Homo sapiens: one gene and its partner. The protein of the gene in region 2 purifies or fractionates together with the protein of the main gene of each other region. This does not show direct contact. Each region holds a gene or a part of one and is shown on either strand. Other genes may lie near its edges. The genes, in order: MTNR1B and GNB4.

What was found.
Region 1: the proteins of GNB4 (region 2) and MTNR1B purify together in Homo sapiens (tandem affinity purification; 2 studies listed by IntAct). This does not show direct contact.

The regions. Positions count from the first base shown.
Region 1 is NC_000011.10:92,964,338-92,972,650, reverse strand, and holds the start of MTNR1B (melatonin receptor type 1B), read right to left. Parts: upstream 3,001-8,313; 5' UTR 2,926-3,000; coding exon 2,703-2,925; intron 1-2,702.
Region 2 is NC_000003.12:179,413,401-179,420,975, reverse strand, and holds part of GNB4 (guanine nucleotide-binding protein subunit beta-4), read left to right. Parts: intron 1-48; coding exon 49-87; intron 88-1,470; coding exon 1,471-1,577; intron 1,578-4,419; coding exon 4,420-4,483; intron 4,484-5,928; coding exon 5,929-6,091; intron 6,092-7,194; coding exon 7,195-7,261; intron 7,262-7,362; coding exon 7,363-7,564; intron 7,565-7,575. UniProt on the Homo sapiens protein: Guanine nucleotide-binding proteins (G proteins) are involved as a modulator or transducer in various transmembrane signaling systems.

The DNA of each region.
Region 1 (8,313 bases), on a different chromosome or scaffold from region 2:
TGCCATGGGCTGTGCAAGACTCTGAGAATGTAGCAAAGAGTGAACACACTTGGCCTTACCTTTTAAGTTGGGTCGGTGCCCTGACCCTACCTCCCACCTTGCCTCCACTCCTCCCTGTCTGCCTTTCTCTGGTGCTATCTCTGAAGTCAACCCACCACATGCAGCAACAGACACTACAGATAGGATATCCCTGAAAAAAAAAAGACAATTAATCTAACCACTCACCCTGCCATCAGGAGCGGCACTGTTAGGAATGATACAGATCTGCTCCATAGAGGAACTGGGTTTGTGATAGGCAAGTAAAGGATACTGGTGTCTCCTGGGAAACATGCTGTGACCTCAATATGGGCTATGTATCTTGGTTATTGGAAATATATGTATTCTCATTGTTACAGACTTAATTTTTTAATACCAATGATTTAAGGAGCCAGACTTAAGTACAGAAAGGTCTGAAGAAGCGTTTCTTAAATTAAATCCAAACTCTTCAGTAAGACAAGGCCTGATTAAGAGTAGAATGTGTGCTAACTATTCAAAGAGCTGTAGGTTTTAAGCGCCTTTTGAAATCTCACTCTGCTGAGATCATTTAGTTCAAGTCAGTACTACAATTGTTTGTGACTGTCACCAATAAAGCCAGAGGTCACATAAGAACTGGTTAAATTGCAAGACTGCAGCAGTGGCAGGAATTGATGTCATTTAGATATAGTGTTATTATTATTTTTTTTTGTTCGGGTGCTGGGCTGTAGCGGACACATCAGGAGGTAGGAAAGATAGAACAGAGGATATGCCAGCAATTTAACATGCTCATGACCCTCCCCAGTGATGCTCTTAAACTGGTTAGGTTTCTGCAGACCCTGCCAGGATCACAGAAAAGGCCAGCCCTCTGTAGGATGCAGGAGGGGAGGGGTGCTTTTCTCCTTCCAGCAAAAGGAAGCAACTCCTACTTCCCTCAACCACCTTTCTCATGGTGGGCAATCCAAATTACTGAGCAGGGAGCCATGGCCTGACAGACCTGCTCTAAATACTCAATAAGTCAGGGACAGAAGGGGCCAATGTCAGAACCAGGAGGACCCATTTCTCCCCCATAGAGCCAGGAGTTGTCTCCCTTTTGCTTCCCTGTGCTGGAAATGAATGTTTATGATGGCTGCAAGGGACAATGTGTCAAAAATATTAAATGCAGTTTTCTAATCATAACCTGTTTTTCCCTAATATATAAGCTTTTCTTCAAAGGACACAATATTTTGAACAATGTATTCCAGAAAACAGCCACCACTACTGAAGTGAGTTAGAAAGTTTACTTCTTCTTAATAATGTTATGTTTCCCATATGATGGCTGGATACTCACAGTTGGAGGAGTTTCTTGTTTGTTTTTTTAGCTAAAAATCCTAGAGTTGGCCGGGCGCAGTGGCTCATGCCTGTAATTCCAGCACTTTGGGAGGCCGAGGCGGGTGGATCACTTGAGGTCAGGAGTTCGAGACCAGCCTGGCCAACATGGTGAAATACTGTGTCTACCAAAAATATAAAAAATTACCTGGGTGTAGTGGCGAGCGCCTGTAATCCCAGCTACTCGGGAGGCTGAGGCAAGAGAATCCCTTGAACCTGGGAGGCAGAGGTTGCAGTGAGCCTAGACCATGCCACTGCACTCCAGCCTGGGTGACAGAGTGAGAGACTCCATCTCAAAAAAAAAAAATTTCTAGAGTCACAGGCCACACCAAATACATATTACTATTTGCTAAAAATGGTCTGACTCCTTAGAAAAGCATTTTTAAGCTATATGGTTGTTTTACTGCTGCTATCTTTCCATTTTAATTCACTCTAATATTTGAATTTGCTCCCAAGGCCCAACTTGAAGAAACTGCAAAATTAACAAACAGGTGACTGAGCTCCTTCCTAAGCTGAAGTGGTCATCATGCCCCATGACCTGTGAGGGCTAGAGTTCAGATACTGCCCCCCACTCTGGTTTTGTTTCTTTGAAGACCTGACTAGGGGAATATTGAAATGAGAGTGGATTGAAATAGGAAAAATATTTTCAGGATTACAACACGATTTAGCCAAATCATTGCTTTAATTTTCACAGTTAATCCCAGGAATTCCCAGTCTTCGGAAAAGACCACAATATTTCAAAGCAATTTAGTTCAGTCCAAGCAGAATCTGCAATTTCTGCATTTACTCTCCGTCAACTGGAATTGGGTCTTCAGATGACCTGGAGATAAGTTTTTGACACAAAACCTACTGAAATGCTTCCATTGATTAACTCATTTTTTCAGCAAGGATTTTCTAAGCGACTACTACATAAAGCTACAGTGCTTGGCAAGGAAGGAAGTGGGATGTCAAGTACAGGTGGTGAGATTTCTGTGGCCTGATGTGGGCACCTCTGGAAAGACACGCATTGGAGCGCGACGGGGTAGCGATGGCATCCAGCAGCGTGGGTTCCCACAGCGCCGGCGCCCGGCCAAAAAGCGCGCCAGTAAAACTTTCCGCAATTCCCTCTGTGCCAAGCGCGTCCTGGGCAGCCGCACTTCGGAGGGGCAAAACTCACCCTAACTTTTGAGTGCAGAGTCAAACTTAAGGAATAGGTTAGAGTGAAGGGAAAGGGGAGCCCGGGCTGAGGAGGGAAAAGGCAGCGCATATCCCGGGGTCAGGGACAAGATCAGAAGACAAGGAAGGGCCCGATGCCAGCACCCAGCATCAGGAATGGTGCTCACCTGCGTTCCGGAGCTTGCGGTTCCTGAGCACGGAGAGGATCACCAGGAGGTTGCCCACGACGTCCACGGCGGTGGTGACGATGAGCACCGCGGACAGCGCTGGAGCCACCCAGGGAGGTCGAGGGGTCCTGGAGGGCCGCGCGCTGCCAGCCCCCGACCAGCCCGGGCGCACTGCCCACCCGCCCGCCTCGCAGCAGTTGGCGAAGGAGCCGTTCTCTGACATCGCAGACTCTCCCGCGCTGTGCTTTGGCCACCGCGCGGCCCCGGACAGCCGCAGGGCGCGCGCAGTACTGAGCCGGGCGCTCTCTTCCCTGCCCAGCTCGCGTGTGCAAGGGAGGAGGCCAGTGGGGAGGGGTCTGGAGGAGATAACTAATTAAGCGTGGGCAGGGGATGGAGAAAAATATAGGAATGGGAGGAGGACTTGGGGTGCAGCCGTTGTAGAAGGGAGTGCGTCCCTCAGCGGTGCGCTCAGGAACAGCTGGGACCGCACAGCTGTCTCTGCCACCCCGAGCCCAGCAGGTGCCTGGCCCACCTCAGGCTGCGGAGCGCGTCTAGCTTCTGTCCCTGAGTATATAGCCACACCCGAGACCCCGATTTCCTCCACAGCGTCCCCAAGAGAAGCTGTGTCTAGGTAGGGACGTCCAACCCAGGTTGATAGACTGGAGAAGGTGCTGATGGTAGGGACCTCCCATCAGTTGTCAAGAAAGGCAAGGTTTGACGTCCCATAGGGCTGTGCAGCCCGAAAGAGAATGCAACTCCTAAGATGTGGGGACAGAGCCCAGAACAAAGTAGGGTAGACTGTTATATTCTAGGGAGCTGCAGAAAAATACGAACCTAGCCATTTTCCAAGCACTCGCTGGGTATTGTGGGGGGCATTGATGATGTCTCTACTGGGTCCTCTTTATAAAGCCAATACTTTAACATATTTACCAACATATATTTACACATAATACTTAAATAGATGTATGGCCAATATTGGGGGTTATGATGTGGTTTTTGGAGGGGTTAGGACAAGAAGAAGATTGAGGCATGATTACAATAAAGAAGGAACTCAGGTGCCCTTTATTAAAAATGTTTGAGTCGTGATCTGGTGATAATAATAATAGATAACTTCTAATGGGGGCTAATCTTATGACCCCAAAGCACTTTTCACACCCATTAGAATCACTAAAATCAAAATGACTGATTATCCTATATTTGTGGAGGAAGTTAAGCAACCAGAACCCTCATACACTGCTTTTATGAGAATGCAAAATGGTATAGCCACTTTGAAGAGCTGTCTGTTAGCTCCTAATAAAGTTAAATATACACCTATTCTATGACCAGAAGTTCCAAATGAAAAGGAAAGTATATTTCCACCAAAAGACCTGTACAAGAATGTCCAGAGCAGCCTTGTTTATAGGAGCTCAAATCTGGTAACACCTGCAATTTCCACCAACAGAAGAATGGATAAGCAAATTATGGTATGACCTTGCAATGGAATACTACTCAGCAATAAAGATGATTGACCTACACAACAGCATGGATTAATCACAAATATGTTGTATTGAACAAAAGAAGCCAGATACCAAAAAATATATACCATATTATTCCAGTTATAGGAAGTCCAAAATCAGGGAAAATTAATCTATTTTCTAATAGAAATCAGAAAAGTGGTTACATTTGAGGGTGGGTATTGAGAAACAAACACCAAAAAATTTCTGGATTGTTATTTTTACATATGTTATTTTACGTAAGTTATATTGCCCCTCTCCTTTAAAGGGGGGAAAAAAAGAAGGAAGGATGCAGTGGAGACGGAGGGGCTGATGATGCAGAGGCATGAGTGGATGTTGAAGGGAAGGGAGAGGGAAGGGAGAGGTGAAGTGAGCTCATCCTTGAAGTGAGCTAATCCAGAACTCCTTAAAGTGAGCTCATCCAAAACCCAAGGAAGAAATATTATTTGTTAGGAGAGGGAGGCTTTCTTTCTTGTAGTAGAAAGGAATCAGAAGCCAGATGCAAATTCAGATGCACTTCTAAACTGGTGTGAGGAAAGAAGAGAACTCTTGTCTGGCTTCTGTATTCTCAGGGAGATAGAGGCTACCCATTAGCCAGGATTCAGGGGAACAGTGTAGGAGATTTGAAGACAAAAAAAAGATATGAAGGAGCACTTCAGAAAGTGGAAACATTAACTAGTAAAGTATAACAGGCGTGTCAGGAGCATGAATGTCCCCCTGCAGCTTGAGATGATGGCTTCAAATGATGCCACTCAGCCTGGCCAGTGGTTGTTAATCAGCAACTTGGAGCTACTCAGGACAGGCATGGAGAAGGCAGAGTGAATTTCAGTCAGGATTGGGGTCTGCTGGGTAGGAGCAAATAACAGAAGAAAGTTCAGGGGCCTGGTGAGAAGATGGATCCTGGGGTTTACATTAATGAGGGGTGATGAGAAAACAGAGGGGCTGATGGGCTGTGAGACAAAGGAAAAGTCAAGAGATTGCAGGCCCTGTGACTTCAAGGAATTGTGGTGAGTGAATCAGAAAATGTAAGTTGTGGTGCTGAAAGGGTGAGTTGTTTGAAACTGAGATGTCTGAGGCATGTAGATTCTGTTGCTGTGAAGGCTCTGAGGGTGATTATGGGTAGTGGGTTGCTGGTGGAAGGTGAGAAAAATGTTGTTAGAGATGAGAAGGTAAAGGAACTGAGAAGTCGGGGGTGGATATTATGGTGGGGTAAGAAAAGGAAAACTATGAGTCAGGAGGCGAATCCCCAGTGAATGAGGAGGAATGACCAACATGTCCTCAGGAGAGCAACAGCAAAGGGGAAAGAGACACCAATGGGCAGTGTCAAAGCCAAGAGGCTTTTTCAGGAAGAAGAGACAGCCACGCCTTCCCTGTCTTACAGGTGCAAACACATCGTGGCACTTCTCAACTTTCACACGCCAACATAGCAATAGGTGAGTTGGACACAGTATAAGTTACCTCCATCCAGACACACCCTCTAATAACACACATTTGTTAAACTGAGCATGAAACATAGGAATTTGCCCTATGCTGCCTTGGAATGTGATTGTCCATAATAGCATATCTCAAGATAGGCACAAAGAATTGGGATGTTCACCTATCTAAGAAGTCAATGCTACATCCTGGCATGGCTGGCCAGGCTGTGCCTTAAAATGGTGGGGGAATGATACAGCCACTTTGGAAGGCAGTTTGGTGATGCACTGCAAAACAACACATACCCTTACCATCGCATCGAGCAATTGTATTCCTTAGTACTTACCCAAGTGAGTTGAAAATATATGTCCACAGAAAGACCTGCACACCGATGTTTACAGCAATTTTACTTATAATTCCCAAACTTGGAAGCAACCAAGATGTCTTTCAATAGGTGAATAAATAAACAAACTGTGTGGCACATCCAGACAATGGAATATTATTCTGTGTTAAAAAGAAATGAGCCATGATGCCATGAACACTCATGGAGGAACTGTAAATGCATATTACTAAGTGAAATAAGCCAGTCTGAAAGGGCTACATACTGTTTCTTGATTCCAATTATATGACATTCTGGAAAAGGCAAAATTATGGATACAGTAAAAAGATTAGTGGTTGCCAAGAGTTTGGGGTGAGGGAAAGATGAATAGGTTGAGCACGGAGGATTTTTAAGGCAGAGGAACTGTTTCATATGATACTATAATGGGTAATACATGTCATTATACATTTGTCAAAACCCAAAGAATGTACAACACCAAGAGTGAACTGTAATGTAAACTATAGCATCGCAGATACTGCTGTGCCTGAATATAAACTAAAAAGATTATTTGTACAAAAGGCAAAAATAATAGTTGCTGCCAACAGTATAATGAAATTTTATGGGAAGAAAATCAAACTCTGGAGAAGGAGAGGGAAAAAAGACAAGAGAGTTTCAAGATTACTAGATGTTTTCTCAAAGAAATAAATCAACATTTTGAATGCTTACCGAGTGTCCTAGGATTTAAAAATTGAGCAGAACTGGTTTTCTCAACACGTATCCCAAGTTCAAACTCAAATGAATATCTGACCGTAGAAGCTCATTGTCATGTATCCCAACAGTAACACCTTTTACTCCAGATAGTACTTGAAACCTTTCCCAAACATCTTTCAACCAGGGTATCTTGGGAGATAGCAGTGATTGGCCCAGCTAGAAAAGAAGGAAACAGACTGTCAGAGAAGTGAATTGCCAAGGTTGGTGGCTGATGAGTGACCAGTGGCATTATGCAATCTATTTATTTTATTAAGTGTGTAATGAGGTCCAGGTACAGTGGCTCACACCTGTAATCCCAACACTTTGGGAGGCTGAGGCCAGAGGATCACTTGAGGCCAGGAGTTGAGGCTAGGCAACAAAGTGAAACCTTGTCTGTACAAAAAATAAAATAATTAGCAGGCACGATGGCATGCACCTGTGGTCCTAGCTACCCAGAAGGCTGAGGCAGGAGGGTTGCTTGAGCCTGGGAGGTCTAGGCTGAACGAGCTGTGATCATGCCAGGGCACTCTAGTCTGGGCAACTCAGTGAAACCCTGTCACTAAATAAATAAATAAATAAATAAATAAATAAATAAATAAAGTGTGACAGCTTTTACTCCTTCAGTATGAAATATACAAAGAAAATAAGCAAAATTTTCTTTTGGTAATCAGCTTGTAGCATGGCTGACAAGCACTTTTAATAATGCTATAAAGAGTAACTAGCACACAGCTAATATCTAGTAATTGCTCTGCATTACACATAGGGGACATCTGCATTCTTTTGTTTAATCCTCTCATCTCTATGTAACATATTACTGTGTACTGTGAAGAAACTGAGATTTACACAGGTTAAGAAACCTACCCAAGGTTGCTGAGCTAGTGGTTTCAGAGCTAGGATTGCAACCTAGGCTGCCCGATCCTAGAACCTGGGGCCATTTTACTCTTGCAGTGGGATATATTAAAATATACAGACCCTTGTTACCTCACAAGAAAGATAGGGAAACTCAACAATGTTGAGTAGATTGAACCCTGAGAGAAAATAGAGTAAGACTCCAGATGTTCTTGCTGTCAGCTTTGAAAAAAAAATGGTTTATACAGATCACTAAAAAAATATACCACTGCCTAGCATCGTGAAGCTGCCCTAATCTTTCCCTCAGGTGAAGAATGGCCTGGAAAGAAGGATGCTCTACAATAAAAGAGTTTAAACAAGACACAACTACAAAGCCACCACCTTCTGGGCAGCCTCCCTCATATTTCCCAGCACATGCCTGTGGCAGAAACCAGTCGGACGATCCTGTAGTTGAGCCAGGCTGGGCGGGGTCAGAGCAGGCATGTTCTCTCTGCTGCTGGTTGCATGATCTTTACCTTTCCTGACTTTTTCGTTCCCTTCAGAGGAATCAGAATGGGAGTTGCTGTGCCGGTTATTTCAGATTTGAATCTAATCTAACAGCTCAATGTTCAAGCGGAAGGGTCTGACCCTTCCCTCGGGATACAGAGACCCTAAGTAAGCTCGGTCAGTGTTTCTCTATTATCACCCACTGCCCAGAATCGATTGTTTAGCAAATAAATACATACATATTTAAATATATAAATATATCTACATATGAATTATGTATAATTCAATGTTTGCCAGTTTA
Region 2 (7,575 bases):
CATTCCACAGGTTGCTAAATGCATTATAATCATATTTTTTTACTTCAGGATGCTCGGAAAGCATGTAATGATGCAACGCTTGTTCAGGTAAAGTTTTGTTTTTCTTTATTTCATTTTGGTAACTCATAAAATAATTTGACATAGAGGCAAATGACATTCAGATTCTTGTATTAGTGCTTAATTGAAAAAAGTTAAATGAAATCTCTGTGTAAAAGCACTTCGTAATTTGTCAAATGCTATACAGTGCGAGTGCTTTTTAAAATATATTGTTAAAATAGACATCTATGGAAAAATAAATGCTATAAAAATATACCAGCTATACCAACATGGTAAAACCTCATCTCTACTAAAAATAAAAAAAATTAGCTGGGCATAATCCCAGCTAGTCGGGAGGTTGAGGCAGGAGAATTACTTGAACCCAGGAGGCAGAGGTTGCAGTGAGCTGAGATCGCACCATTGTACTCCAGCCTGGGCGAGAAGAGTGAGACGCCGTCTCAAAAAAAAATATATATATATATATGTATATATATTTTCAAGGCCAAGCATGGTGGCTCATGTCTGTAATCCCAGTACTTTGGGAGGCCGAGGTGGGAGGATCACTTGAGGTCAAGAGTTTGAGGCCAGCCTGGCCAACATGGTGAAACCCTGTCTCTACTAGAAAAAAAAAAAAAACATGAAAGTTAGCTGGTCATGGTGGTGCCTGCCTGTAATCCCAGCTACTTGGTAGGCTGAGGCAGGATAATCGCTTGAACCTGGGAGGCAGATATTGCAATGAGCCGAGATCCCTACTGCATTCCAGCCCAGGAGACAAAGTGAGACTCTGTCTCGAAAAAAAAAAAATTATATATATTTATGTATGTATATATATATGTATGTATAGATTCATATAGTTTATGCTTCTTTTTAAATAGTTTCTGATTCTTTTTGGTATACCCTGATTAAGTGTTTTTTTCCTTATGAAAACTCTTAGGTTGGGAATGAGATAGTAAGAGGGGTCAAGAAGACTAATATTTTTAAAAAATCTTGGGAAGGCTTCATGTTTAATTAATATTGATCATTATTATTAAGGAAGTATTTTATGTGCTCTACAAATATAAAATTGGCTTTCTTACAGTTAAAATTGTAAATGTTTACTGTGATCATTTGCCTCTAGATTTTTATTTGTGGCTGGTTTTTTACTAAAGCATAGAGGTATATCTATTCTTTTTAGTTAATAGTCTGCAGAAGGCATTCTTATTATACATTTATGTATATTATTTATAACAGCACATAGGATTATTTTAAACTAATCATAATTTTCAGGAACATATTGATCCCATAACGGCTCTGTGGAATTATATACATTAAATTACCTTCAGTTACTATAAATGTACTTTATGTTTGCTTTTTTAACTCCTCACTGTTTCTAGTTCAAGTTATCTCATGAACTATGATTAAGGTAAAGAATAACATTTTTGTTGCTTTCAAAAGATTACATCAAATATGGACTCTGTGGGTCGAATACAAATGCGAACAAGACGTACACTGAGGGGCCACCTAGCTAAAATCTATGCTATGCATTGGGGATACGATTCCAGGTTTGTACCTGTCATTACCTGTCATTTTTAAACTGTTGCAGAATTATTTTCATTAAGAACCATCATTTGCATTTTCTTTGTTTAAAAACAGAATATATTCATGAAGCGTTTGCAGAAAATGCATCTCAGATGAACATGCTGCTTTCAATAAGAATATTAATTGACTCTTTAAAAGTATAAACATTTTTAATATGGAATCCAGGACAACTGTTCAGAAGAGGATTCCTTTTCTTTGCAGTGGAACATTGCAGACATTCTTTGTTTTTTAAATAGGCACAAAGCGTTTTTACTGTATATGAAGCTTGAAATTTCAGTTCATAAGCAAATACGTATTGAACACCTATGTGCAAGTTTTTGGATATTGCTATAGTTTGTTATTACATAAATTCGCAAATAATGGAAATTACATGAAACAAAGGTGTTTGTACTGAATACATCTTTTACTCCCTCGACTGCATCACAGAAAGGTGTGTGCTTGAATGTGCAAGCTGACCATCTGCAGGTGCACAGGCACACGCACAGCTGCTACGTGGCCTACAGTTAGATAGATTGCTCATCACTGTCATTCACTATGTGTATAAGGCTACAGCACAGCCTATGTTTTTCCATTGTCTGGCAATAGCAGATGTGTCTGCTATCACAGTGGTTTACTTGTTCCTTTGATTTGGTTAATCTTAATGGGAAATGCCTAAACCAAGAAACTTCTATGTTTTAATAGAAGTTGCACATTTATTCTCTTCTCCCAGGAGACACTAAAATTATAAAGTAGAAGAAGCCTCAATTGTTGCTCTAATTGGGATACTTGACCACAATAATATAGAACATGTGCCTCTTACGAAGGGATACATAAAATTATATAATTGGCAACTGACATAATGTCTTAATCTTTTTCTTTTTCTTTTCTTTTTTCTTTTTTTTTTTTTTTTTTGAGACAGAGTTTCACTCTTGTTGCCCAGGCTGGAGTACAATGGTGTGGTATCGGCTCACTGCAACCTCTGCCTCCCAGGTTCAAGGGATTTTCCTGCTTCAGCCTCCCAAGTAGCTGGGATTACAGACATCCACAACCACGCCTGACTAATTTTTGTATTTTTAGTAGAGAGGGGGTTTCACCATGTTAGCCAGCCTGGTCTTGAACTCCTGACCTCAGGTGATCCAACCGCCTCAGCCTCCCAAAGTGCTGGGATTAATCAGGTGTGAGCCACCGCGCCTGGCCGAATGTCTTATTCTTTTTCTTAAAGGAGTTGAAGATAAAAATAATTTACCTGTTGATAAAGCAAAATTTTAACTTAAAATATAGTAACTTGAAACAATGTTTATGGTTCTTGCTTTCCTTAAACGTTTTCTGAAGACTGTTAATCTTCATAGAAAAATGAAACCATCATCCAGGAACCTATCTCACATAGTCTTCCCACCCATCCGTGTTATCAATCCATTACTTAATGTTCTCCTCAACTCTTATGCTGATGATGCCAATTGATTTCTAAAGAATTTTCTTTAGATGCCATCCTATACCCCACTATCAGATAGATCTTCCCTTTTGTAAAACCTTGTAGTGATTGCTACCCAAGAATCTGATAATGTTATTTACCTCTAGGGAAAGGAACTGGGTGGCTGATGATAGGCCCAGGAAGGTGCTTTTTAAATTTTCTTCTGTATATCCTTTTTTATTTTTTGAATTTTACACCATGGTGAAAAGTAAAAATTCCAAACAAGGCTGGGCATGGTGGCTCATGCCTGTAATCCCAGAACTTTGGGAGGCCAAGCGAGTGGATCACTTGAGGTCAAGAGTTCAAGACCAGCCTGACCAACATGTTGAGATCCCATCTTACCAGTCGTGGTGGTGCACACCTGTTATGCCAGCTATTCGGGAGGCTGAGGCAGGAGAATCACTTGAACCTGAGAGGCGGAGGTTGCAGTGGGCTGAGATCGTGCCATTGCACTCTAACCTGGGTGTCACAGTGAGTGTCTGTCTCAAAAAAAAAAAAAAAATCCAAACAAAACAAAAAATTTAGTGGCTAAAATTACTTAGGAGTTCATACTCTTTAGTTTAACAAAGCTTTCTGCAGTTTAAGCCCAGTCTGCTTTTCTCAACTTATTTTTCCATTTTCTCACAAACTGTACTACTGGAAGACCCACAATTCCTGAAACAACACTCAGTGTATTTTTCTACCTGTCATTGATCTTACATAGCTTTCTCCTAAAATACAGCCTTTTCTGTATCTTTAGCTCTCAACATTTTCTTTCAAGACTCATTCTCTTGTGATTAACTCATCTAGCCATTGTTCCTCCTTTACTCTCCTGTGGCATTTATTTTATACCCCTCTTCTGACAGTTTTTACTTACTTGATTTAATATAAATATGAGTAAATGTCTTATCTTCACCAGATGGTAGAGGCCTCAAGAGCAGGCGATGTATCCTGCGTTGTACCTCTAGTATTGTCATATTCTCAGGCTCTCAATTGGTGTTTTTAGATTGGATGAAATATGGTTGTTAGGCTTCTATGTACATTCTTGTCATGAAATTTAAGTAAGTCAGTAAGTACTAAACCAGTCAGCTAATATCCACCCAAATCTTGTATAACTAAGATGTTGTTACCACAAAAATGTTTAATCATAGCCAGACATTTTTAGTCAGTTGCTAAATTTTATTTTATGAAATATGTTCAAGATTTTTGGCATGCAGCATAAATTTTTTAAAAGTTGGAAGAACATTTTTTGGTATCAAGTTTTTAGTTGGAAAAATTGTATTTTTCTGAATTATTCTACATTAATGCAATGCATAACCAATTTAAGCTATTTTTTCCCTCTAAGTGTCAAATTATTTTTGTGTTTGTTCCTCTAGGCTGCTAGTCAGTGCTTCTCAAGATGGAAAATTAATTATTTGGGATAGCTATACAACAAATAAGGTAGAATTTCTTCATAATTCTTTTAAATAACCTTATATTTGTTTGGCTGTTCACCAGTTCTTTCCTTTATTCTTTTACCTCAAACTTAAATTGCTTTCTGAGATAAATTTATTGTTTATTTTAATCTAGTTCTTCTCTTTTGTCTTAGTGTTTACTTTTAATGTTTAACCCTTTTTCATTTCCAAAGATGACTCTATGTTTTACTAGAGGGCTCATATTTAATATATGAATATTAGAAGAGTACCATTTTACATATACTAATAAATGATTTTTAAAAATTCCCATTTCCTAATATGACAAAGACCTTGAGATTTTTATTTCTAGTTTTGGATAAGTTAGATGGCTAGTGGGAAGCTCTTCTTTGGCCCGCTCCAGGCACTGATTTGTGCTTCTGGACTTTTTAGAAGATACAGTAGATTGGAGGTAAATGACAACTTACGTAGATCTCTTGGTGGTAAAAGACTGTGGATGGTCCTAATACATCCACTGGAAGGAATCCCCAGTTTAAAATAGTTGAGTGGTGAAAAAGCTTCAGGAATACTTTGATAAGCTAATACCTTTATACTCTGTGTATACATATTAGTATTTTTATTAAACATTTGAAAATACCATTTTGTGAAATAATAATTTCAACCTGATTGAGATTTTAAAGCTAGCTAAGACAATTTTGTAATATAATAGTTTTTCTTTATTAATCATCATTAAGCACATTATCTTTCAACTATATTTTCATAAAACAAAAAAAATGTATTTTAAGCGTATTATTTTAGGTTAAGTGAGAGCATAGTAGTAATCCTGCCACGTGTTGATTCCCTGTATGGACTGTTTAGCCGTGGTATTCTCATACACCTTTTTTCCATCTGACCTTCAAATGATTGGTGTTAGGGTAACAAGGCAGCAGACAGTGTTGTTTCTAGAGCAATAAAAAACTATCACCATTGTTTGAATGAGATCCCAGAATAAGGGCCTATTAATAGAGGGATGCCAGTGTTGTCTTTTCATGGAAGACTCATGTAATCGACTCTGATACTTGCTAATTATTTCCCTAGTTCTTGTTCAGAGTTATGTTGGAGGAAATTTCTCTTCTGAGCACTATTACAAAAGTGAAAATTCTATTAAAACCTCTAACATTTTACACTTAATTTTTCAAATGGCAGTATATTAACCTTGGAACATCTTTATGTTCATTATTTTATTAAGAGAATTATTTCCAAAAAGAGCACTTTTTGACTCAAATGATTTGATAATACAAAACAATAGGCATTTTAATGTGCGTTAGTGTTGTATTTTTCATGGTTCACTTTCTCAAGCCATTACATTATTTTATTTGACTTATCTTTCTTAGATGTGTTTAATTTTTAATAATATTTACTTCATTGTAAATGGGTTTATGCAATAGATGACTGTTTTTGTAATCTGAGTGATGTGTGGTGTGTGCCCTACAGATGCATGCTATTCCTTTGAGGTCCTCCTGGGTGATGACCTGTGCTTATGCTCCCTCTGGTAATTATGTTGCCTGTGGAGGCTTGGACAACATCTGCTCTATATATAACTTAAAGACCAGAGAGGGAAATGTGAGAGTAAGCCGAGAGTTGCCAGGTCACACAGGTGAGCTTCCCTAAATATTCTTTCCCACCACACGATTCCTTGTGTGGAATGTGCTGATCAAGGACAAATGACAGATTGTGCTCGGCTGGCTAAAGGATGAGGATTAATCGGGTGGGAATGAAATTATTATGAACAAAGGAAACATTAACTTTTTATAGTCATACAAACGTTGATCATAATTTTATTTTTCAAAAATAGCTGTATTGTTTTTGTAAAAAATGATAAATTTACTGCACAAAATTCAAACTCATGAAAAATAAAGCAAATAAAATGTTCTCCATTTTCTGCTGCCATATAACAATTATGGGATTGTGGCATCTGTACTCAATTACATAATTGAAAGTATGCATTAAGGTACATTAGTGAAGTGCTTTTCACCATGATAGTGTATTGCTTTGTTTGCCAGTGTGCCCATCATAGTTCAATAGTGTAGTATTGGGTTAGTGGTGTTAATCAGGAATTTATTGCCACTTATCTGGTATCTATCCATCTGAATTTTTAGCCATACTATTTGACCATGCTTTTACAAAATCTCTAGAATGGTGTTTTTCTGACATTTCCATATTTTGAAACACTGATGAATGCTAAGCATTCAAATGCCACATCTTTCATAAAGTCTTCACTGTTGTTCTTCTGATTTCTTACAATATTTTATTTTTTTAATATTTTTTATTTGAAAAAAAAATTTTTTTAACTGCTCCTTGCAGAGAAGGGCTAACTCATAGGCGGTGCACCCAGAGGCATCCTCTCACAGTATTTTAAAACTATTTCTCCAGGGTGCTTAACACAGTCGGCCATAGATTATAGTTCTTCCCAAGGTAATTGTCTTAGGTGGCAGGGGCTGTGTCTTATTCAATTTGGTAACTTTCAGAGTACCCAGCACAATGTCATTAACATAGTTAATGCCTAAGAATGGTTTGTGGATAAAATTTGGTTTATAGACAATGTAGGATTTGAAGTAACTAAAAGTAGAACTATAGACTATATTGACAAACACTTGTTGCCCAAGTATTCTATTTTTAAAAATATATATTGCTATTTCACATGGTAACTGAGTTATTCAATCAGTGATAACCTAAAATTTGCTACTCTTTATGCTGTAGGGTACTTGTCCTGCTGTCGTTTTTTAGATGACAGCCAAATTGTTACAAGTTCAGGAGATACAACTTGGTAAGTTTATTCCAGAAGCACACTGATTATGGGTTTGAGGGTGGTAGCAGGAACTGACATAAGAAGAAGTAATTGTCATGAAATTTTGTTTTTAATTACAGTGCTTTATGGGACATCGAAACTGCCCAGCAGACCACCACATTCACTGGGCATTCTGGAGATGTGATGAGTCTTTCTTTGAGTCCTGACATGAGGACTTTTGTTTCTGGTGCTTGTGATGCCTCTTCCAAATTATGGGATATTCGAGATGGAATGTGTAGACAGTCTTTCACGGGACATGTCTCAGATATCAATGCTGTCAGTGTAAGTGAATA